Homo sapiens: one gene and its partners. The protein of the gene in region 3 interacts with the protein of the main gene of each other region in a biochemical or structural test. Each region holds a gene or a part of one and is shown on either strand. Other genes may lie near its edges. The genes, in order: PPM1E, PPM1F, ARHGEF7 and SHANK2.

Region 1 (2,862 bases), on a different chromosome or scaffold from region 3:
CTCGTTTGGAAGGTCAGTTCCCTCCCTTCAGATGCAGGTGTCGTAAGTGACTTCCCTCCCCCACATTGTCCTTTTTGTCTCTGTCTCCTTTTACTCACTTATCAGCAGTCCTTGGGAGGCTTTCCACCACAGCTCATCTGATGATTTCCTTACTTTCTTCTAGCTTGAAACTCAAAGAGGCTAAGCGAAAGGGGAAAGCTTGGTTAGATGCAGAGTTCTAAGAATGAAGTAGTTGGGAGATTTGATGACCACCGCTTAGTCCTTGGCAGGTCGGGTTCCTCTTTTCTTTTAGGATTATAACACCACTCCCTCTCCTCGCAGTTCAGCTAATGAAGAGAACATGTATAAGGCTAAATACCTCTCTTCTGGGGTAAAATAATGTTACAGCAGCATTTAGCAAATCTTCTTTTTAAATGTTCCAAGCTTCCAAACTTAACGTCCATCTCAGGATTTTATTTTCCAGTTCTGAAGAAATCTGCACAAATTTAAACAGTAAATAACTTACCTTTCCTTTAAATAAAAAGACAAATGACTAGTGGTTTTTAAATTGCCAGGTTTTATTAAGATAATTGGCAAAATTTCAACATACACCTTACCTGAATGAACACTTTTAATAAAATATGAAGGATCACTCATGACTACAACTGAACTCAAAAGTGAGATGTAGAGCAGATTTGTAAATTGATAAATTTATTTGGTAAGAAATTATTCACTTCATTCGCTTCACTCCATAGAGAATTCTTTGCAGAGAAATGTTATGAACAAGAGAACAAAGCCTGTCTCTCACCAAAGAGCACCTAGAGTAAGAGTTTACAATGATGTATCTGGATTATCTAATTCATCAAAGTTTATTTCCTTTTCAAAAACAACTGCTGTGTCAGTCTGGAGTTCCCTATTTCATGTTTTCTAATTATTACAATAAATAGTCTTCAAAATAGAAGATAAAATGCTGCTTTAAGAAGTAACAGTTATTTTTCAACACCATACCATTTGTCTGGAAAATCATTGTGTTGTAATACTGGTGGTATCTTACTTTGTTTTGCAAGAGACATTTAAGCTATTTGCAGATCAGAATAGAAGAGTGGGCATTTGTCCTTTAACATCACGTGATTTTCAAAGGTGAAAAAAATTTCTTTTGCTAACTTACGATTCAAAGAAAAATGGTCTCAAATTAAAGTGTGGACAAAACTGTAGTATTCCCTTTTATAGCCTTGCTTAGGTAAGAATGTTCACTGAGTGAATAAATTAGGTTTAAAAATTAAAACAATAATTTAGATCATTTTCCCACAAAGCCTTATCAAGGATTTGATGGGGAAGGAAGCACTTGAACCACAGCAGTTTTATCTGTAAACACTGAACTTGGCCATGCATCATTTTCATCTGCCCACTGGATGTTGCACTTCTCACTGGCACAGTGTTTCAACAGTGGAGTGTGGTTGTCATGAAAATGCAGTATTGACACTATACCACTATAAATGTGGTCAAAATTAGACTCAGTGTTGACATTGACATTGTTGCCATTGTCCTTGGAAAAGGTGTTACTTTCAAGGAGCCTCCTAAATGCAACAGTAACTTTAATCATAATAATTCAAGGACAATGGATGGCACTTCTAGGTAAAGAAAAGGTATATACATATGTGTTTCTACCCATCCTCTTTAGTACAGACCTAAATGGGATTAATAGCCCCAGTGTGTGTTGCTGTAATGTTGCCTAACCTCATGTCCCTCAAAAGTACACATCTAGAAAGTGAACAAAGGAAACCTGTAAATTAGGGACTGACTCCCTTTGAAACTCACAGTGAATGTACAAGGAGTTTGTAATGACTTCAGTTGGTGACCTGAAGTTTGTTTCCCTAACCAATATTACACTCTTGTTTGGATTTATTTTACTATTTCCTATTCTAACTTGTTTAGCAGGCAAACAGATTGATGCAGACCATGTTAAATTGAAAAAGGGATACTGCCACTCTTTAAGGATTGAGTGTAGAACTTTCACCACCACTAAATTACACAATGAATAAAAATACAAAACACATAATTCACAGACTATACCTCAGCATTAACAGTTTATAGATATTATATAGATACTTTTATATCTGTCTAATATTTTTACAATCACCAGGTACACCATCATTAAATACAAGTTACAGAAATATGTAGATACCATTAGTTAGAGGGTTACTTATTGCTTACGTCAGCAAGCAGCAAATAAGGGCACAGGATTTGAACTGAAGGGAACTACTTCCTATCACCAGTGGCGTTAAGAGAGAACACTGCATTTCACAAAGCACTGCTTTTATCTAGTTTATAGAACCAAGAGCAGCATATATCAGACCAATAACCACTATTTTAGTATGTATTATAGAATTTTAAAGGATTTACCTTACAAATGGTACCTAACTACTCTATAAATACGCATGTTGTGAACAAATGAATAGTTGCTATTTTTCACAATATTGGTTTATAACGACCACACTAGAACTACTTTGCTTTATTTTGTAGAGAGCTAATGGCATGAGAAATGAGTTAACACTGCTGTGTAGTCGGACCTACAAAATCCAGACCCCTAAAGATGGGTCTGTGTTTGTCCCAGTTCTATCCAGCCATTTTTTTCCCCACTGAGAAAGCCTAGCATGTGTAGTAACTTTTTCCCTTTACCCTCTTTATTCTGATCAAAAACATTACCAATAGACAACAATAGAAATTTTAAAAAGCTTTTTTTTTTACTTCGCTAAGCACTTTGGACTATAATGTGTACCAATAGTCTGCTGCCTTTGTTTTCTTGTTTTCTTAGATAATTTGATTTGAAACTGACACTGCACCTGATGGGTTAACAAGATCTAGGCTTCAGAAGGTGACAGA
Region 2 (6,906 bases), on a different chromosome or scaffold from region 3:
CCTTAAGGAAGGCGGCCTTGACAGCTGTGGCTCCGGCAGGAGAGGAGTCTAGTGGAGCAGGTGGGGCTGGGAGACCCCCTCCCCGGATCTGGCTTATGAATCCCCTTGGTCTTCGCTGCAGCCCCCTGCTCAGGGCCACGCTCTTGACCCCACACTTCTCCGTCCCCTGCTCCCTGCTCCCATCTCTGAGAAGCCCTGTACATGGTGCCCGTGTGCGTCTGGCAGCTTCCCAGGACCTGCTGCAATTCCCATTCTCACAACAAGCCCTTATGGTCTTAGAGGCAGCTGGGTGCCCCATGGAACCCATTCACATGCCAGGTTTAGAAAATACCCTGTAGGCCAGACTGCCGTGTGGTGCCAGGTGCTGGTGGCAGCTGCCCTCTGACCTCAGTGCCTTCTTGTGCTCCCCTCCCCAGCCACCCGAGGAGAGACACCTGTGCGGGATCCACTGTGTGTTGGAAACTCCCTCCACACTCCGCCCGTGCCTCATTGAGTGATGACGGGAGCTCAGCAAAACAGCTTTCCAGACTGTTCAGTGGGACCTTTCTTTGAGGGGCAGGTCAGGAATGTTTCGGACTCAGACCCGCCCCCGCCCCAACTCAGTAGTAGATTCCCAGGCTGCACCAGGACTTATATGAGAGCTCCTGTAAGGAAACCCAGAGCCCACCAAGCATACCCCCCCTGGACCCCCTTCCTGGAGGCCCTCACAGGTTAACACGGGGGTTCCCTGGAACACAGTTTGGAGAGCTACTCGAAGCTGAATGAAAATACAGAGACATGGGGAACCACATAGAGGGTCCTGGGATGTGTCTCAGAAGCACAGGCTTCAGGAAGGAGGGGGTGCTCTCAGAGCTTCTGCCCCCTCCCACCCACTCTGGTCCCATTCTGGGGCCCTAGCAAGGCCACACCTGTTAGGTCCCCAGTGCGGGGCTGTGACTCTGCTCTTCCACCCACAGGGCCCAGTGGACCTGGAGCCTTCTCCGCAGAAGGTTTCAAGACCTCCAGGACCCTTAGGTTATAGGGCTCATTCAGGCTTGGAGGAGCAGAGACGGTTCCTAGGTCTTAAACCCAGACCACCCAGTCCTTCCTTACTATGCTTCTGCACTGCGCTTTCAGCCACAGGCAGGGCTAATCACAAAGTGTTCCTTTATTTTCCTCTGCAGTTGTCCCTTGTGTGTGACCCTCCTTCAAGGCCCTTGGCTTCCGCAGCTTGATTCTGCACTCCGAGTCCATTCACCTTCTCCCATCCAATAGCATCCAACCCCGCTGCTACTGCTGCCAACCTGGCCTTGGGAGCAATGAGGACAAGGAAGGGACAAGACCCCTTTTAGGCCAGAACTGCCTTCAGATCAGCCACGCTCCATGGGACTGTACCTCTGCCCTGGAGGCTGGAGAGGTCAGTGGCTGCAGACTGTCTCAAGGAGCCCCTGGCCCTGCCCACCTAGCCAGGGGTGCAGCCTTGCCAGAGAAGCAGAGAAGCGTCTGTGGCTGGGTGGGTGATATTGAAAGATTCCTTTCACCAGGGTGGAAGCCAGGATCTGAGGCGTGATGGAATGTGGACAGTGAGGCAGTGACAGCGCCACAAGGCAGGAGTCATCTCCAGGCACGTCCTTGGCCTGGAGCCCATAGGGACAAGCTCCTGGTGGTGCCTCACTTTGCCATCCTCTCTAAGCCGCAGACCTTGAATGGAATCAGTGCTCAAGAGTCTAATTGGGCCCACTCTGAGGATGCCTGCGGGAATATCAGCTTTTACCGCACCACACTGCACTTTACAGTGTGGGAGGGCCTGCCCCACGCACCACCTCACCTGTACTGCGGTTCTCAAACTTCACCCTACAGCCATTCTGTTGTAGGTGATCTCAGGGGCAGTTTGAGAAACAGTGGCTCAGGGTCTCACAGCAGCCCTCTGAGATAGGTTGGTTGCTATTGTCCCGATTTTTTCTCATCAAGAAACTGAGGCTCAGGTGAGCTAAGGAATGTGCCCAGGGCCACTGTTTATAAGAAGTAGCCTCAAGCCTTGCTCATGGTTACTGCCCTGACAGGGATCTAGGAAAGAGTGAGCAGGAGAATGGGATGAGGCAGGACCCTCCGCCCCAGCCCTGCTTTCTCTGCCCAGACACCTCCTGCCTTGCAGACCCAACCCCACCCCAGATGGTTTCCTTTCCAGTCACCCAGCTGCTAGTTCTCCAGGTTCCTGGTCTCACTCCAGGTTCCTCCTGTTAGAGAAGCATCCCAGAGACATTCATTCCTGGCAAGGACACAGGCCTGCGGACCTGAAGGTCAGGTGGGCAGAGCCACATAAGATCTGGTGCCCCATCCTCCATTTAAAAAATTATACTTTCCAACGGCATTGGTATAAAGGTGAATATATTAATATCATATATTAAAACATTTTCTTTGACATAAAGGTTTCTTTCTTCTGCCTTTAAAATAAAATATTTTGGCCAGGTGTAATGGTTCACACCTATAATCCCAGCACTTGGGAAGGCTGAGGCAGGAGGATCACTTGAGCCCAAGAGTTCAAGACCAGCCTGGGCAACATAGAGACCCTGTCTCTACAAATTTTTTTTAATCAGCTGGGCGTGGTGGTGCTTGCCTGTGTTCCCAGACACTAGGAAGGCTGAGGCAGGAGGGGAGGGTCACTTGAGCCCAGGAGTTTGAGGCTGCAGTGAGCTGTGATCATGCCACTGCACTCCAGTGTGGGCACCAGAGAAGGAGCTTGTCTCTAAAAAGAGAGAAAAAGAATATTTTCAAGAGCCTCTGTGTTGGCAGAAAAATGGCCCTTCAGAGATGTTCATGTCCTATACCTGTGCCTGTGTTAGATTACATGGCAGACCCGGCATAGTGGCTCACGCCTGTACTGTAATCCCAGCACTTTGGGAGGCCGAGGCAGGCAGATCATTTGAGGTCAGGAGTTTGAGACCAGCCTGACCAACATGGTGAAACCCCATCTCTACTAAAAATACAAAAAAAATTAGCCGGGCATGGTGGTGCGTGCCTGCAGTCCCAGCTACTCGGGAGGCTGAGGCAGGAAAATCGCTTGAACCAGGGAGGCAGAGGTTGCAGTGAGTCGAGGTCATGCCACTGCAGTACAGCCTGGGTGACAGGGTGAGACTCCGTGTCAAAAAAAAATAATAATAATAATAAGGGGCAAAGGGGAATTAAGGTTGCTAATCAACTGATTTAGAGAGATGATGCTGGACTATCTGGGTGGGCCCAATGGCATCAGGAGGGTCTTTAGAAGTAGCAGAAGGAAGCAGAGGAGGGAACCAGAGGTGGCAGTGTGAGAAAGGCTCAACTGGCCATTGCTGGCTTCGAGGCTGTAGGAAGGGGCCACGAGCCAAGGTATGCAGGGAGCCCTTAGGAGCTGGAAAAGGCAGGGGAACAGTTTCTCCCCTAGAATCCTCAGAAAGGAACGCATTCTGGCGATCCCTGGATCTTCGCCCACTGAGGCTAAGTGGACTTCTGACCTCCAGAACGGAAAGATAACAAAAGCCTCAACGTTTGTGGAAACAAACAACTCATAATGAGCCTGGGACTGTGCCTCCTTCCCGGACGGATGAGCCTGCCTGGGCAGTCTGGGTTTGCATCCCTGCTCTGTCACTTACCAGCTATTGACGGCAGAAGTTGCTTAATTTCTGGGCGCTGTGACCTAGGGATTGCTTTCCCCATCCAGCCGCCCACCCAAAGCTGCAGAAGAGAAGCAAGAGGCTGGTGACTGGGGCGGCTCCGGAGCCCAGGTGGAGCCGCAGTTCGCCTACCACTAAAGGGCCGCAGTCACCGTCCACGTAGCCGCCAGGGGGCAGCAGAGGTCCGGCCCCGCCAGCCTGGAGGCCCGACTGCGCCTGCGCGGCGCCCGCGGCGCCCGCGGCGGCCAGGGACGGGAAGTGGGCGGGGCCGGCCGGCAGCAGCTTGCGGGACACGGAGCCGCGAGGAGACAGCTGAGGCCCGCGGAGACCAGGGGTGAGGAGGCCGGGGGGGACGGGATTAGAGGGCTGACGGGGCTGGGACGAGGGTCAGGCGAGCGCCCAAGGCGCACAGGGGTGAAATGGGACCGAGGAACCGGAGGGGTGGAATCAGAGGGCTGGGGAGGCAAGGAGGCCGAGACGAGGCTCACATGGGTGCACCGAAAGGGTGCGGGGGTGCAGTGCGGGGGGCCGAGGAGCAAGAGGGGCCGCTGCGGACATGAGGAACCCGAGGCTGGGAGTTGGGGGGCTGGGGAGCCAAGGGGGCAGAACTGGGGGGCAGGCGGGGGTGTGGCCGAGCCGAGGGCCTGGTAGGGACCGAGGGCTATGAGGCAGAATCGGGTGCTGAGGGGGACGCGCCCCATTTTCCGAGATTTGGCCTCTCCCCACCCCCCAGGAGCCTCTGGGCCGGCACGTTGCCCCATATCCCCCCAGTCCCTGCACCTTCAGGGGCCCAGTCTGCCTGATGGCCCCCGGCTCCGCGGCCTCCCAAGCGTCCGTGAAGCGAGCGTCAGCTGCACAAGTGCTCGGGCTGCAGCTGCTTCAGCCACAGGTCTGTGAGCCAGAGCCTCAGGCGCGGAGGCCGGGCACATTGCCGCTGGGTTCGGTCAGGCAAGCCCCTGAACCTGTCTGTACAACAGGAAGAACTGGCTCCGGCTGCAGGGATTTCGGCACAGCGCTTGACACACAGTGAGGCCCACTGCATGGTGGCGGGCTCCTTCGAAGCCTTCCACCCTGCGGGACAGAGTCACACATGTCGTGGTGGCATTCCCCGGGACAAGTTCTCTGGGCCCAGCTGAGCTCTCACCACGGGGGATAGAAAGTGGGGCCGGCCAGCACTCTGAGGCCATCTCCAGTCTCTTCTGTTGTCAAATTTCGCTCTTTTCCTCCTGCACGCGAGGTGGAAATACCAAAGGCATTGGGCATCCAGAGACCTTGATTGAGTTCGCTTTGCCCTTTCACCTGTGTGAGACCTTAAATGGGTGCTTGCCCTCCTATAACCTATTTCTTCATCTGCAGTGTAGCCTGACAGTATGTACTTCTCAGCGTAGTTGTGAGAGGTAAACAAAACGAATGCATTTCTGAAAGCCATGAACCTCTACACAAGTTCATTTGTGGAATTCCTTTAAGATACCCCCTGAAGGCCGGGCGCGGTGGCTCATACCTGTAATCCCAGCACTTTGGGAGGCCGAGGCAGGCATATCACCTGAGGTCAAGAGTTCCAGACCAGCATGGCAAAATCCCATCTCTACTAAAAATACAAAAATTAGCCGCGCGTGGTGGCAGGTGCCTGTAATCCTAGCTACTCAGGAGGCTGAGGCAGGAGAATTGCTTGAACCTGGGAGGCGAAGGTTGCAGTGAGCTGAGATCCCACCATTGCACTCCAGCCTGGGCAACAAGAGCGAAACTCCCTCTCAAAAAAAAAAAAAAAAAAAAAAAGGATACCATCTGACCTGAAGCCAACCGAGTCTTTTAAGACCTGGCGCTGCTGCCCACTGCACCCTTCAGAGTGGTGTAGCTTCCTCAGCCCATGCCACCCGCCAGTCACTCTTCCCTCTGCCATCACACTTACCACCTGCTGTACACAAAGGGCCATCGTGGGCTCCCTGACTACAGGGAGCTTACAGTCTATCAAGAAAGTCAGGCCTGTAGAAAGAAATGGTCATTGCACAGCAATGTGACTATGCTTAATGCCATGGAACTGTACGCTTAGAAATGGTTAAAAGGATACATAGTGTGTATATTTTACAACAATAAAAAAAATTTATATATGTAGAAAAAAAATCTAGGATTTACATCTAACTATTATTAGTATTAGTAGTTATGAATAAAGAAATAAGAATCTCTTTTGGTAGAAAAAGGTTGGCCAGGCGTGGTGTCTCATACCTGTAATCACAGCACTTTGGGAGGCTGAGGCGGGCAGATCACCTGAGGTCAGGAGTTCGAGACCAGCCTGGCCAACATGGTGAAACCCCATCTCTACTAAAAATACAAAAAAATTAGCCAGGCGTGGTTGTGGGTGCCTGTAATCCCAGCTACTAGGGAGGCTTAGGCAGGAGAATCACTTGAACCTGAGAGGCGGAGGTTGCCGTGAGCCAAGATTGCGCCACTGCACTCCGGCCTGGGTGACAGAGCAAGACTCTGTCTCAAAAAAAACAAAAACAAAAAAAAACAGTTAACATGAATGATGCTTTTGTTACACTATAGTGGTGCAGTTCCCTTTTCTAAGGATTGCTGGGTTTTTTTCATTACCTTGGTTCTGCAGTTAAGCAAGACTCAACAAGTATTTTTTCTATGTCCCCTAAAAAACTGCAGTTGTTAAACCCTGCATTCGTTAAGCTTAGGAGTCAAAACTAATGCACTAGAGGAAAATAAATATTTTAAATTAAAAAAAAAAAAACTTTTTACAAGTCAGATGTGAGCAAAAGTGCCATAGAGACATGAAAGAGAGCATGCTGGATCCAAAGATGGGGAGATTTCAGCAAAGCCTCAAAGGATCTGAGAGATCTCGGGAGGCAAAATGGAAGGAGGGCACCACAAAACAAGGAGGGGAGGGGCTGCCCTAGGGTGGGGGGTACACAGAAATGGAAGGAGGAGCCATGAGAGAGCCAAAGCCCAGAGCTGGTGGCCAATGAGGGACAGGTCAGGGATAGAAGGAGTCAGAATGACTTCCCAGGTGTCATCACAGTTAAGGCCCAGGTTCCCCAGCATGAACCCCACCCTGGGACTTTGGGCAAGTTCCTTAGCTCTTCTGCTACAGCCTGCCCTGTGAAGTGGGGATAACCACAAGAGGTTGTTGGGAGGCTAAAAGCCATCCCAGGAAGAGTGCTCAGAGCAGGGGCGGATGGCAGCTGGCAGCACCGTCAGCCACACCCCTGCAGCTGCCCCCCGATGAGTTTGCTTTGCCATTTCTCACCTATGTGGGACCTTAAATAGGTTC
Region 3 (7,036 bases):
CCAAGCCTCCCTCTATCCCAGGAAAGCCATGGCCTACGTGACCAGGAGGCCACGTCCTCCACCACACGGACCGCAGGTACTCACTTTTCCGGGACGCGAACTCCTCATCTGAAGGCTTCCGTTCAGGTTTGCGCTTGGGCAGCAGCTTTTTCATGGTCTTAGGGCTCTTACTAAGATCCTAGGGAAAGACAAAAGAAAATGCTAACATACTCTAAAGCCAATCATTTTCACTGGCATATCAGAAAGGCTGCTGTAAAGGTATAAAACCCCAAATTATTATAGCCACTGATAAGAGCTTCTCGCCTTTTCCTACTTTGATTTTTCTTTACCAGCTTCTGAACGTTAATTTTTAAAAATCAATAGGGCATTTTCAGTATTAGTCATTGGCTAATTTTTTTTTTTTAATTCTAATAAAACCCCTCGTGTCATTTGGGTCCTGTTAGTCCTGTGATGAGAGGTGTCACCAGGAGGCAGGCTGGCGCTGGTGTGCACAGACATCCTGCACGCTCCTGAGGGAGGAGGAGAGGAGGGGGCAGCTGCTCCCTAGGACAGACCTATCCCCTGGCACAGCTAACTGGAAAGAGAGGAGGAAACTAAGGTTGTCATTAAATGACAGATAAGTAAAAAATAATTGCTTTAAGAAAATATTTGAAGTTTCAGGGAGAAGAAAAGGGAGCGAGTGCTCAGCTACCTGACTCTGAGTGCCAGGAGCACAGCCAAGCTCGGCCAGGGCTGCTGTGCAGGGGCCACATGCACACCAGCTCAGAGTGTTCACAACGGAATGGCCCACCCCTTACCTCTTCAAACAGCTTTTCAAACAAGCACAGAAGACGACGGCAAAAAACAAAGTGAGCAAAGCAAGTCCCAACAGAGCAGGTAAGGTGTCAACTGTCAAGCACGTGTTAAATACCGATATCAAAAAAAGGCTGGTTTCTGCATCACCCCAACGACATAAACCATCACGAATGCTAAACGCGAGACCAAGACTCAGAAGATGAGATGTGCTATGGAATGAACCAGGCTGGAAACAGAGGAAACAAAGCTTGGTTTTTAAAATTATCTTTAAAAGTCTTTTCTTGGGAGCTAAACAATGGGTACACATGGACATGACCATGGAAATGACAGACCCTGGGGACTCCAAAAGGCGGAAGGTGATGGGGGTGAGTTTTGAAAAGCTACCCATTGGGTACAATGTTTCCTATTTGGGTAATAGGTACCCCAGAAGCCCAAACCCCAGCATCACCCAATACAGCCACGTAACAAACTCTGAATCTAAAATAGCCTTCAAAAAGTTAAACAAAAGTATTTCTATAAAAAATTGGAAAGCTCTTAGAAATGCAGCAGCAATCTGTTCCAGAAGACACATTTATACACATGTGCTCATGGCTTCCCTAATTCGAAGCAAATTGAGATGGAGAGCCTTGAAGAGCCAACGCCCGCCCCTCACGTGCTCCGAGGGCACCTGCAGGCGCAGAGGGTCACAGAGCACACAGCACACCTGAGCCAGAGCCAGGCAGAGCGGGCTGCAGAGCGGCCTCCACGAGCCTCCATGTCCTCTTCTCACACCCTGCAAGATCACTCTCCACGCTACTGCTGGGCGGTGCTCAGCAACACTGGACGGCAGCTGCTCGGTGTGAGCCCTTCTCTCCCAGTGTGGAGTTGGCAAAGCAAATGCAGCCAGACTTATCAAAAAAAATTGTTTATCTTCACTTCAATACCCCTTCCGTTGCCCTTTCTACTTCTTTGCCCAACAGTTTTATCCCAATTTTCTTCCCTAGTAATTCAGTCTCCACCAGTTCTTGTAGTAGCTCACTTTTTCTTTAGACTGTGCACACTAAAGTATACAATAAGGAACAGCAACATTCTTCAAGTAACTTCCCATGATAGAAAATGGAAATTCTGACTTGCACACATGATTACCTGAAAGATATCATAAAAACAAAGACTCAGAACAAAAAATGAAAAGCACAGATCCTAATTTCTCATACAGTACTTTCCTGTGGGCCTTAAAACCCCCAGGGCTGCCGGCAAGAATGTAGAAAAAGTCTGCTCCAGTTCCCTTGGCAAATGTGGCCTTGACCAGACACAGAGGCACAATGCCAGGCAAGAGCGTGTCACCATCCTCACGCTCACTCACACCCCACCAACGGGCACTGCTGCTCACACTGACGCGCACGATACCCACACTCTCACCGCCACTCCTCATACCTCACCACCATGCACGCTCAACTGCTTATGAAAACAACTCTCATCTCAATTATCAGCTTCCTCAGGTGAAAGTACTTCTCAGAACAGATTTCTAAAGACACTTCCTTTCCTCATCCAAGCTGGTTTAGGTAAAAGTGTAAGGAAGTGTTAACACTTCTATTTATTCATTGGAATCGTACTTTATTTGCGCCTAGCAAATATAAAAATGCCGGATGAGAACAGAGACAAGCAAAGACCGCATCATGATTTCTTATGCATCAAAGGGGGAAACCGCCTAAGTGATTGTTTTTCATTTGTATTAGTAAATGTTCTCTTCATCTCAAATGGCTTCTGGATGACAAAATGCAGGGCTCCTGGACAGGATCCCCAACCTAGAGGAGGGGTCGTTAGACGCAGCAGACAGCGTGCAGATGCTGAGCGATGGCCTCACACACAGGGAGTGAAAGCCACCTGGGCTCAGCGCCTTTCCAGCTCCTGGCCCCTGGCGGCACACTCCTCCGGCAAGTGCAGTAAAGGCCCCCCTGTGCATGGCAGAAAGGAGGGGGACCCTGCACATCGCCTTCCCACACAGGTTACCACGGGCCTCTCAGCAGCAGAGCAGATAACCAGAGAACCAAGGCAGACCCCCCCTTCTCAGTTCTCTAGGAGTTAGGGTGCATTTTGCTGTACACAGAAGGCCCAGCACGTGGGCACACCCAGGGCCCGAGGCATGCTCACCGTCATCTGGCTGTTTGAGTGGTCAAGGGACCTCACCTCCTTGTAGCAGAGAGCAGCTGAGGGCCGGAGGGGAGGCGCGGGCCGCAGGCAGCTCAGGCTCCAGGGCTTGGGTGTTTTCGGAGGCTCCAGGGGTCCCCAGTTGATGGTGGTGTGCGGGGTGCCGTGGTGGGAGGGGTGGGGCAGCGTGTGGTAGGCGGGCGTCAGCGGCGCGGGCTTGCTGTCTGCGTGCTTGCTGGACGGAGTGACCGGGTGGGAGGGGAGCTGCCAAGGGCACAGAGCGGGAAGGGCAGAGAACATGAGACTCGCGTGCTCACCGCGAAAGGGCACTTATCACGCACTTCCTTCTGCTCTTTAAACACTCCATGTGAAATAAACCTCAGGATTTATCATTTCATTCGTATCTCTGGCTCTCAGCAGTCAGTTTTTGGGGCCAAACACTAGCTCGCGCCACCTGGGCCGAGCGTGGGGCTCCTCACGGCGTCTGCCCCAGACAGGAGGGGCAGCTCTAGCTGGGGCCCCAGCACTCAAAAGACATCCACTAGCCACATTTATTAGCTACGGAGTAACATTTATAGAAAAAAGGTACTTCATCTAGTAAAAAGATGAGAATTTCACAAAAGCACACAGGGCATGTGGCTGTAAGAAGGAAGGTGATTCCCCCCCAGCCACGTATTATTCTTCACCTGGTGATAAAGTACTGGGCGAAACTAAGGCCTGATCGCCTAGTTTTGTTTTTTAAAAAAGTTTTCCTGGCACACAGGCAGGCCTGTGCCTGTCTAAAACTGCTGTTGTGTTCCAAGGGCAGAGTACAGCTGCAAGAGGCCTGAACCTGTAAAGCAGAGAACGTTTACCATCTGGATCTTTACTGAACACTGCCAAACCCTGGTATTAAAACCAATTATGTTCTTAGAAAACTCAACTTTAATCAAAACAAAGTTAATCAAAAATTAACTTCTTAGAGCGGTGTGCCATTAATGCATTTTATATTCCTGGAAAACCCAAAATATTCCATCACAATGACAGTTAAATGAGAAAAGTTAAATAAGTCATTCTCAAAATCAGCCAATAATGACCTCAAATTAGCCAACAATAGTAAGGTGCATTTAATGGGAGAACAAGCTGTGTGGCGCTGTGAACTGGAAACGGAGTGGGGCCGGCATTCTGAGGAAGTGCGCGACCTTCAAAACACAGGCTGAGAGGGACGGCAGCTAATGCCACAATTTCAAGAATAGAAGCCATCAACTTCCTGCAACGATCACATTCTAGTCCCTGCATGGGGGAGGGAATTGTGTGAGATGCAGGTCATGCTATGAAGCCACTGTAAGGTCATCTTTTCATAGGAAATAATGTATAGATGGATAAAATTATGTAAGACATCCCTTCTAGCAACAACGTCAAAGCAGTGTCTGGTTTTGTTTCTCCTTTCTTGAAAAAGTCAAAGGAAGTATGCTTTATGCTAAAATTAGAAAATGATTTCAGCTGGTCAGAGTTGGATCACAGAATACATCATCCCACACAAGAAACTCTGTAGGAGAATGCAGAACATTTTAAACATGAGGCACAGTGCCTTCCCCGCTGAAGGGATGCCTTCCCAGCCACCAGTGAAAGAAACACTAAGACGGAGGGTCTGGCCACAGAGAAAAGCTGACTTGATATAAAATTGTATGAAGTAGAGTTTCAGGCTGCTGTTGAAAACCTGAGTGAAGCAGCTCATCCACTGTTCTTTATAAACACACGTGTACACACACGTCCCTGGGATAAACTGATCTCCATGAAAGAATGGAGAATTTTAAAATGGTAGAGCCATTAAAAATGAAATGCTAGCTAAAAGCCAATGAGTAGTTACAATCTTTACTGCTGAAAGAAATCAGATGGACTCTGAAACTCTGATGAGAATATCAGAGTACAGCAATCCTTCTTGAGCTACAACCTTCACATGAAGAAGAAAACATGAAAACTGAGCACACGACAGAGCTGATCCTAATAGCCTAATAAGGATGTGAGGAAATCTGTAAGCAGAAAACGCCTGTGTCATCGTCATTCATTCTTTAAAAGCTCTGCCCAGTTTTTCCGTATTACTTGATAAAGATGACGACTGTTAAAACAACCCGATACCAACTTCTTGAGCACAAAACACCAGGAGAGGTTTAAACACTGAAGCTTCAGTGTTCATCTATTCTGAAAAGTTGTAAAAAAAAAAAAAAAAAAAAAAAAAAAAGTCTCTAAATATCCAAAGACTTGTTGAGCTTTTCTAAGTAAAAGACACCTCAATTTCTTAAAATCAACAGTGTGTCATAAATTCTTTTAATGCCTTCAACATGAGTCTGGCCCTTTTCATCATCATAATCATTTATTTTTTGTTTTCTTAAATGAAGCATAATAAACAGTTAAAATTCTCAGAAAAATCATCTATAGTTGAGTGTAAAACTCCCCTAAATCAGTCTTCTAGGGCCACACGGAGCAGAAGCAGCTTCCCACCCAAGCACCTCTGAACTGTGCGTGAGGAGGCACAATTCAGGGTTGTTTCTCGAGAACACTCATTGGAAAACAATTCACTACTGCACGAAGAGGGCCAAAGATCTGCAGAGAAATGTGAAGCAAGTGTTTTGCACTTTTTATCCAAATATTGATTAGGTTTTAAAGCAACTGATCACTTGCTGACAGCTCAGCCACGGGATGCCACGCCTGGAGTCTGGAAGGAGGAGAAGCACCAAGTCCTTACGGTATGAGATGGCACTGAATGAGGCTTTATGGTGGGGTTTCCCACAGACGTGACCTTCGTTTGCTTCTGTAGGTGCTCCACCCATTCCTGCAGATCCTGCTGGTTGTTGCACGACACTAATATCCGCTCAATCATGCTCCCTATAGGAGAGAAGGAAAAAATAGGCCGAGTGGAAACACAGGTAAAAAGCACGTGCGTGCACACCCCCCAGAATTCCACTCAGCGCTTAAACACCACCTTCTGAAATACGCAAGCAAGAATCTGCACGCGGGGACAAGCTGCCTCTCCTCCCCGAGACACAGCACTCACACAGCTTGTGCCTATCACCTGATATTTCAAATGCATTTCTATGATTTTCACTGTCCTCAAGCTTTGTGATTGTCATTCCTGTCGTTGGAAGCTTTCCCTAAAAAAGACCCCCCCCCACAAAAAAAAAAACAATTAGTGCTTTTCTAGAAAAAGGTACCATTATTAAAGTCAATATTAAATGATTTTAGAATTGGTGGAGGAACTGTGTTTGTGAACCAAAAAAAGCTCATTTGTAGCAGATGTGTGTATAATACAAAAATTTTTATCTCAAATAATAAATTATAATACTGTACTGTAAGCAAGAAACTCAACTGGCGACAAGGGACAGAGTGACAAGCCCAAACACACACTGTATCTGATGAGCTGCTACTAAACATAGACACCAGGACAAAAGACATCACACATTATGATTTTTAAAAAACTACCGTGTATAACAGTTGTTTTAAATGATGTTTTTGCAGAAAAGAACCATGTATTTTCCTCGTAAAGAAATGCAGAGGAAGTTCCAAGTTTAAAGTCAAAATAAGGGTGGGAAATTGAGGCAAGAACAAGAATTTCATAACATTCTACTTTGTAAAACAGAAAATAAGTAGTTGTGCTAAATGCTGCACACAATGCACAAAATGGTTGGCAAACCAGTGCTCCCTGAAAACAGAAGAAATCGGTAACTGCACCAGGAAATGTCAATGGAAAGATACCAGAAAGGGGGTACAAAGTGATCATTACAAACAAGTCAGAAGTGAACACAAAACATCCTGGCACAGCTGACAGAAACCACAGTACATGGTGGCCCACCAAGTCCGCAGGAAGAGGCAGTGGGCGTCTGGGCAGCGCTGCCTGGGGAGCACTCCATCAGCTGCGGAGCAGGATTCTACATAAGCACCTCCAGACGGAGTGCTGCTCAACTGGTGTGGGGAACGTGCCCCCACAGAGAATGGGTGGCAGTGCCACAACCTGGCAGGGGCTCAGACCTCCAGCAAGTAAGGGCCAGAGAGGCTGCTGATACCCTACAGTGCCCAGGACAGTCTCACCGAGACCCCCAGCCCCTGGCCATGAACGATCCAGTCCAGAACGTCAGCA
Region 4 (7,121 bases), on a different chromosome or scaffold from region 3:
GGCCGGATCGTGAGATAGAAAAATAGTAATATACCGGGGTCAGTACTATCTGCAGTTTCGGGCATCCACTGGGGGGTCTTCGAAGTATCCCCTGTAATAAGGGTTGGGGGGGCACTGTATTATTTTGGGTTTCCCCTCAATGCTTTCCCTGAAACAAGGACTTGGATGCAGGCTCCTCCATTTGAGAGTTGACTCCAGGGAGCAGGAGTGAGGGAGCAGCGGAAGGGAGATGCAGAAGGAGGCCATCTCCAAATAAAGGTATTTTGTCCCGGACCCTGCTGTAAGCAACGGAGGCTCCAAAGGCCCTTCCTAGAAGCCAGAGAATGTGCCCCAGCAGGACTGTTCACCTGCTGGAGGGAGGCAGAGCAGCAACCTCTCCCAGCCTCCCAGCTCTGCTTCCACAAGGACTGGAAGTGGCCCCTCGGGGAATGAACTCCTCCATCCTACAGGATGCCCTGCACCCCCAAGGGAGGCCTGGGAGAAGGTGGATGACACCCTTGTTCCGGACGTGGGCCTCAAGGGAAGAGCTCATGGCCTGGCTGGGAAGCCTGGCAGACCCTGTCCCGCAGCTTTCCCTCCTGCCTGCTGCTCCCCACATCCTCCCGCTCCAGTGCAGCAGGAAAAGCTTCAGACCATCCCCTCTCATCAGCTCAGATTCCAGGAGAAACAAACTCTCCCTCCAATCTCCCAGGTGGCAGCCAAGATGCTTACGTTCAAAGTCCCAGGAGGCTTTTCTCAGCAAATCCATCCACATAAGCTCATGGAAAATTAATGGAGAGGAATAAAAATCCACAGTAAGCTAGAGGCGAGACGTGAGAGGCACTTCTGCACAGGAGTGAGAGGACATGTAAAATCTGGGAATCCTTACAGCATCAGGTTTATGTGATTGAATTAGAAGTTGTCACAAAATTGTGGAGAAATGAGTGAATTTTCCAGTATTTGACATGGGCGGGAACAGGACGGAAGTGGACCTCTTGCTGTAGTGGAAAACAAGTAGGAAAAAAATGGCAAAAGCACGGGAGAATCTGGCAGGGATGAGGGGATGTGGCAGACTTGCTGGCCAGAGCACCTACCTTTACTTGGGCATACCTGCCTTTAACTGGCTTCACCTGTGTGTGCTTGCCTTTACCTGGCTTCACCTGTGCACACCTGCCTGTGTGGTTCTGACCTCACGCCCTTGAGTGAGTCTCCTCCCCTCCTTGGACCTCAGCTTCCCACCTGTTAAATAACAGGGTTGCCTTGGGTTAGGCCACTCCCACTCGGGCTGTCTAAGAATCATTCTCTGAAGATGTGCTGGCCTCCAACTATTAATACATTAAGCCCCAAACCCAGGAGCTTCTCTGGGAGAAAGGGACTGCTGCTGAAGGCAGTGAGCATCTGGGTTAATCTAAGCCACAAAATATTTATAATGTTTTCCCCAGGACCAAAAAGGTGGCTATATCTCACATCCCTGATGGTATGGTGTCCCAGTTTCCAGTTCTCTATAAAACAGTTACTCTTCCCAGAAAGTCCTAGCGTGCTCAGGACCACACAGCGTGTACTCCACAGATGTGGCTGATGGTTTCATGGTTCAGGTTGGACAAGAAAAAAAGACAAGATGACCAGATGGAAAAGCTTACTCCTTTCTGCAAAACCTGGTGAATCCTGGAAGGCAGCTTCCAGAAACAAAACCGGAGGGTTCTGAAACCAGGAAGCCAGGAGGGTCATGTCTTCTTTTCCTAAACTGAACCTAAAACAAGGCACTTGGTGGTGTGTGTGGCTATGGGCCCCCCAGAAATTAGAATGCCAAAAGAGGTCCTACTTCAAATGAGCGGCGGGGGGTAGGTGTTCCCCTCAACCTGAGATGCCCGCTCAGAGCGTTAAGATGTGAATAAAGGCACTGTGGCAGCATTATCTGACCCTGAACCTTTTCATAAGAGCCTTTTTTTTTGGCTGTCAATACTTTTAGTTGACACATAATTGTACGTATTTATGGGTCCAGTGTGAGATGTTGATACACGTATGCAATGTGTAATGATCAAATTAGGGAAATTAGTGTATCCATCACCTGTAACCTTGATTTTCTTTGTTTTGGGATCATAAGAGATTTTTACAGACTTGAAGGATGTTGCTTCATCGGAGCACAAGGCTGAACTGGATATCTCTAAACAGACACAAAGAAACTGGGGCGTAAGCAGGATGCTGTCCTTAAAATGCCGAATGTCGGGGCTCTCACACAGCGCTCTTGTTGGCTAACAGATCAGAAAGACTGGAGGGGGATGGCCCAAGGGGTGTCCACTTGGGTGGAAGGCTGGCAGAGGCCTGCGTCCCTAGGGAAGTATTTCTTGGAGATAGCATAATGGCATCGGTCTTAAACCTTGCATGGAGATAGCCGAAAAATGTTCACAATTGAACTGTGACCAGCTGCCTGGTCTATCTGCAGCAGTGGTTCTAGAAACCTAGGAAGGGGTGTTCCAGGGGTGGGAATCTGGTGAGAGGAGGGAAATATCCTGAGGATAGGTCTTTGAGCTGGGTTTGCAGGGTAAATACACCACTTTATTCAGATGACTTGCCTTCTTTGGTGGGGAGGGTACTGATGGACTGTTATGGAAAGGTAGAGCCCCCACCCCCACTCCCTGCAACCCAGGTCTTGCATCTGCCACCGGCCAACCCAAAGAACATCCGATTGTCCTGCTCACACCTCTCCCAGGCACCCCAGCTTCCATGCCAAACAAAGGATGCCTGCAGGATCCTGTCAGGGCGTCCTTCTTCCTGTTTTGGGGATTATTATTTTTTGATTGATTGACTCCTTTATTCATTCAACAAATATTTTATCAAGTGTATGCTTAAGGAAGCAGCGACGAGAAAGACATTTACATAAGGCAGCTGCCCTCAAGGAGTTACAATATTTATTCCATGTGTGTCCTGAAATATTCAGGCCCCAAACACAACTTTTTTTTTTTTAACCTAAGTGCTTTTAAAGACTTCTTTGAAATGTGGGACAATTATGCAAGCTGAAAAAAAAAAGTATCTAGAGCAAATATTTAACTTTGCCTTTGGTATGTTGAAGTCACCAGCCCATGCAAACCTCTCAGGCATGTCCTGTAAGATAGACTGACTTACACACACACACACACACACACTCACTCTATGTAGGGGGCACAGTTAGGGGTTTGCATAATGCCGGGCTCCAGGGTTCTGGAGACAGTTCTACTCCACAGCTTGGACTCTGATCCCCACCCACACCTTCCAGAATACTGGAAAACTCAGAACACAGAGACCTCAAGAGCTTACTCAGAAACACGCAGCTCGTACTGGGGGAGACTCCCAGTGAATGATTAAGGCCTTGAGAAAATCTATCAGCCGATGGCTCACACGGCGGCCACAGCTCCAAGCTCAGGACCCGCCCCTTTGGGCTTCCGCAAACCTAGCAATCCGGAGTCCTGGATAATAACAGGATTCCTGGAGTCTCCGGAGGGTGCCTTTGGCCTCTGGGATTCACCCGAGCCGTTGGCTTTTGCTCCCCCCACCCCACCCCCTGGCTTTTCTTGGCTTGGAGGGCAGCTGGCGGAGATACCGTTGTGCACCCCTGGGCGGAAGGCGCCCCAGAACTGGTGGCCTGGGCAGCAGACGCCGGCGTATCACCCGGGTACAAAGTTTTCGTTTGCTCTGCAAACGTTTTGATGTGCAGGCAGCCTCTATTTCCAAATCCTATTATTATAAATACTCTGTGGCGGGAGCCAGCTGCGTTCGGGATAACCGTGCAGACCGAACCGGACTTTACAAAAATCAGGGACTTTCTCGTCCGCCGGCTTTGGCCAGGGAGGGGGAGGTCCGTGAGCCACGCAGCCCGGGGCGGGGCAGAGGCGGCCAGGGCGCCCCGCGGTCTCCCGGGGTTGCCACAACAGACCCCACGCGCACGCCCGAGCCGCAGCCGCGGGCGGGAGCGGGGTCGGGGCGGGGGACTGAGGTCCGCGGCGTGGGCGGGGGTGGGGGTCCAGGTCGGGTCGCCCGCGGGTCCTGGGCCGCACGCGTCCTTTCGGCGGCGAGAGGGCCCCTCCCCCACCCTCGCCGGAGCCAGCTCCCGCGCCGGGCGGGGCCGGGTCCTTCCCCACCCCCTGCACCTGAGCCGCGGCGGCGGCTCCTGAGCTCCGGCGGGGCTGGGCGCGGCGCCGCTCGGGTTCCCGCGGCCGATCCAGGTGTGCGCGGACGCTGGCGCTCCCGGGGGGCTCGGACCCGCCCCCGACTCGCCGAGCCAGGTGAGGCGGCGGCCGGGGACGCAGGGCGCGGGCCGGGGAGGACGGGAGGTGGCCCTTGGGCACCCGATCCTGCTCACTGACGGCATTTTGGGGGCATCTCGATTCCGGGAGCACCAACTACCGGGTAAGCGCAGTCCTGGACCCAGAGAGGCTGGAGAGGTGGGCGCTGGGGGGAGTGAGCCGCGTGTCCAGGTGGGGGTCGATTTTCCGTAGAGAGCCCTTCCCCCTGCATGCCTTTCTTCCCGGGCAGGGGCCGGTGTCGAAAGCTTTGGAAGCGGCGTGGGGGCAGAGCGCAGGAAGGAGCCCCCGCTTTATCTCCTGCGCGCATGGACCACGTAGTCTCTGGCGCGTCCTGCCCCTTCCTCTGGAACAGCGCGTGTGGCGCGACCTCCCCCGCTCTCCCGGGGTCTCCTTGCCCCGGGTCACCGCCCGCCAGCCCTAGGACCCGGGCCAGCGAGCCCAGCGGAGGAGCCGGCGCGGGGCCGCCAGGTGGCGCGCGGGGGCGGAGACCCGAACCGTGGCCGCCAGGTCCCCCGAGACCCCGCTGCGGTCACCCTGGCCCTGCACGCAGAGCTCCCATCCAGGCGCGCGCGGCGGCAGCAGCAGCTGTCGCGGAGAGGCCGGGGCCGGCGCGCCTGGTGCGGGCCCGGGGGTGGCGGGTCGGGCGCCCAGGTCCCGGGGGTCGCGCTGAGCCACAGCCGGGTGCCCGACCCCGGCCCGCCGTGCTCACCAGCTGGGATAGGGAGACCCGGCGGGCGCAGCCCGGCCGCCACCGTCCGTGAATTATGCAGGAAGCTGGCACCGGCGCGCTCGAGTTGATCAAGTTTCCCTGGCAACTTTCGCCCGGGCATCCCTCCTCCCCGGCGGCCGGGCAGCTCCGCCCGCCCAGCCCGCGGCCCAGGCGCCTCCACCGGGTGGCCCCGGCCCCGGGCGCCAGGCGCGGGGACCGCTCCCAGAGACGCCGACAGCGCACTCGTCACTTGGGCTGGAGCCGCCGGACTGAGCCAGCAGGTGCGACCACCGCAGCGGGCCTCGCCGCCCGGGTTCGGGGGGATGCGGGGGCTGGGGTGGACCTCGCCGCCAGGGTTCTGGGGCTTGGCGTGGGGGTGCAGCGCGGCGCCCTCCAGGCGGGTCTGCGTGCGGACACCCTGCTCGAGGTGGGTGGGCGCGTGGGCGAGGCTTGCCTTTCCGTGGGGCTGGAGCACCCAGAGGGAGAAAGGGTGGTGCAGGTGACCGTGGGTTTTCGCAGCCGATCTTTTAAAGGGGCTCGGGGCGCCTGGAACTGAGAAGGCGCTCGAGCCAGGCAGGTGAGGGGTGGGTGGTGGGGGGGTCAGGCGAAAGTACGTAAGGCTCTCGGGGGCTGGCAGCTGCTGGCAGGGGCCTGGGCGTCCTCAGAGGCCATCCGAAAATAAAGTGGTTTTCGGGTGGAAATTCGAGGTTGTAAATTGGATAGTTGAGTGACCTCTTTTTCGTTTGAAACTCAAGTTCGAACGTTAATGAGGCCAATCAGCTAATTAAGCTTCCAGATCCAGAGAGGTAATTTCGGAAGTCCCCCGGTGGGGGAGGGCGATTTGATCTCTATCTGGGATGTGGGCCTCGGTTTTGCCGACCCAGCCACAAGGGAAGTTCTGCGCCCCTGGAAAAGGACCTGGCAGATTCAGCCTTAACCCCGGTGCCCTGCGGTCCGCATCACATAGTTAGTGACGCCCTTCTGTGCACTAGGAACCGAGCCTGGTGCCCCAGAGGGTTCAGCAGGTCCAGAACAGCCCCGGGCCGATTGCTTTTGGAGTTTTCCAACTACTTGTGGGTTGGAAACAAGGTTGAGGGTCCTAATAGGGTTGAGCCTGTGGGGGTGGAGTGAGGAGAGCGAGCTCGGCCCCCATCTGGGTTCAGTGTTAATTCTGAGGGAAAGCCGTCGTGTCTGCTCTAAGAGGGGGATTGGTAGGTGGGAGCTGTGGGTTTCTATGCCGGATGTCACTGTCCTCTGAGGGGGCTTGAGGGAGACTCTTGTCCTGATAGGAATCTGGGTGTCCCAGTAGTGCCTGAATGATTCAGCTCCTGGGAAGCACTGTCTATATAAGGCCTCTGATTCCATTATTACACCCAGGAATTCCTTGTTTTCCTGGAAGGAAGAATTGGGTGGAAAGCTTGGTGCTTCTTTGGGTCCCTTTGGAAGGAGGTTGGAATTCAAGTATCAAAGGTAACTCTTTACAAGTAGGTGATTTCACCTATAAAGATGATCCCAGAGGGCTCGGTTGACAGCACTTGGCTGCTTTTAACAAATTAGATTCCCCCCCACCCCCGGGGAGGGGGGCGGTCTGTTGGGGGGATCTTTCTGTGTACTGTCTCCAAGTACAGTCTGCTATAGAAAACCGTATTCCTATTTGGGTGAGTTTCAAGATTTTCATTCATTCATTTCTTCATTCAGGTGCTTAGGGTTGTATGCAGGGCCATGCTGGCTTCTAGGGGTCTTGGTCTAGGCCTGGGCTTGGGGAGCCAGGTGATATCAGATGTGAGTGCTGCCCAGAGGAAGGTAAAGGGATTCTGAGACCGCATTGCATTTTATATTTCATTAGTGACGAGGAAAAGGATGGGAGAGAAAAACGGGCCGGGAATTAACCAGTATACAGAAACACACTCCTAAAAATGGCTCTTTATAGGAAGGCAGTGCTTTAGCATACTTGCCTTACTTCCAAATACGTAACAGAGTTGCAGACGAGAGAGTTCTGGGATCCCCGTCAGTCCCGATGAGGACTTTTCTAAAGTGGGGCTCAGCTTGGGAGTTGCTGCAGGGCCTGAGGTTGTGCCTCCTACTCTGAAAGAGTTCTGGGCCTGGACACCTGAGGTCTTACCTGCCTGCAATTCCAGCCTCCTGCTTTGTAA

The links.
Region 1: the proteins of ARHGEF7 (region 3) and PPM1E form a complex in vitro, tested with the Homo sapiens proteins (one study listed by BioGRID).
Region 2: the proteins of ARHGEF7 (region 3) and PPM1F form a complex in vitro, tested with the Homo sapiens proteins (one study listed by BioGRID).
Region 4: the proteins of ARHGEF7 (region 3) and SHANK2 form a complex in vitro, tested with the Homo sapiens proteins (one study listed by BioGRID).

Annotation. Positions count from the first base shown.
Region 1 is NC_000017.11:58,982,854-58,985,715, reverse strand, and holds the end of PPM1E (protein phosphatase 1E), read right to left. Parts: 3' UTR 2,799-2,862; coding exon of another isoform or gene 2,795-2,798; 3' UTR 537-2,794; downstream 1-536. UniProt on the Homo sapiens protein: Protein phosphatase that inactivates multifunctional CaM kinases such as CAMK4 and CAMK2. Dephosphorylates and inactivates PAK. May play a role in the inhibition of actin fiber stress breakdown and in morphological changes driven by TNK2/CDC42.
Region 2 is NC_000022.11:21,949,849-21,956,754, reverse strand, and holds the start of PPM1F (protein phosphatase 1F), read left to right. Parts: upstream 1-3,906; 5' UTR 3,907-3,963; intron 3,964-6,906. UniProt on the Homo sapiens protein: Dephosphorylates and concomitantly deactivates CaM-kinase II activated upon autophosphorylation, and CaM-kinases IV and I activated upon phosphorylation by CaM-kinase kinase. Promotes apoptosis.
Region 3 is NC_000013.11:111,279,289-111,286,324, reverse strand, and holds part of ARHGEF7 (rho guanine nucleotide exchange factor 7), read right to left. Parts: intron 6,054-7,036; coding exon 5,975-6,053; intron 5,788-5,974; coding exon 5,648-5,787; coding exon of another isoform or gene 5,591-5,647; exon of another isoform or gene 5,201-5,590; intron 3,187-5,200; coding exon 2,962-3,186; coding exon of another isoform or gene 2,926-2,961; intron 1,921-2,925; exon of another isoform or gene 1,499-1,920; intron 179-1,498; coding exon 85-178; intron 1-84. UniProt on the Homo sapiens protein: Acts as a RAC1 guanine nucleotide exchange factor (GEF) and can induce membrane ruffling. Functions in cell migration, attachment and cell spreading. Promotes targeting of RAC1 to focal adhesions. May function as a positive regulator of apoptosis.
Region 4 is NC_000011.10:71,249,542-71,256,662, reverse strand, and holds the start of SHANK2 (SH3 and multiple ankyrin repeat domains protein 2), read left to right. Parts: upstream 1-4,085; 5' UTR 4,086-4,238; exon of another isoform or gene 4,239-4,362; intron 4,363-4,790; exon of another isoform or gene 4,791-5,249; intron 5,250-7,121. UniProt on the Homo sapiens protein: Seems to be an adapter protein in the postsynaptic density (PSD) of excitatory synapses that interconnects receptors of the postsynaptic membrane including NMDA-type and metabotropic glutamate receptors, and the actin-based cytoskeleton.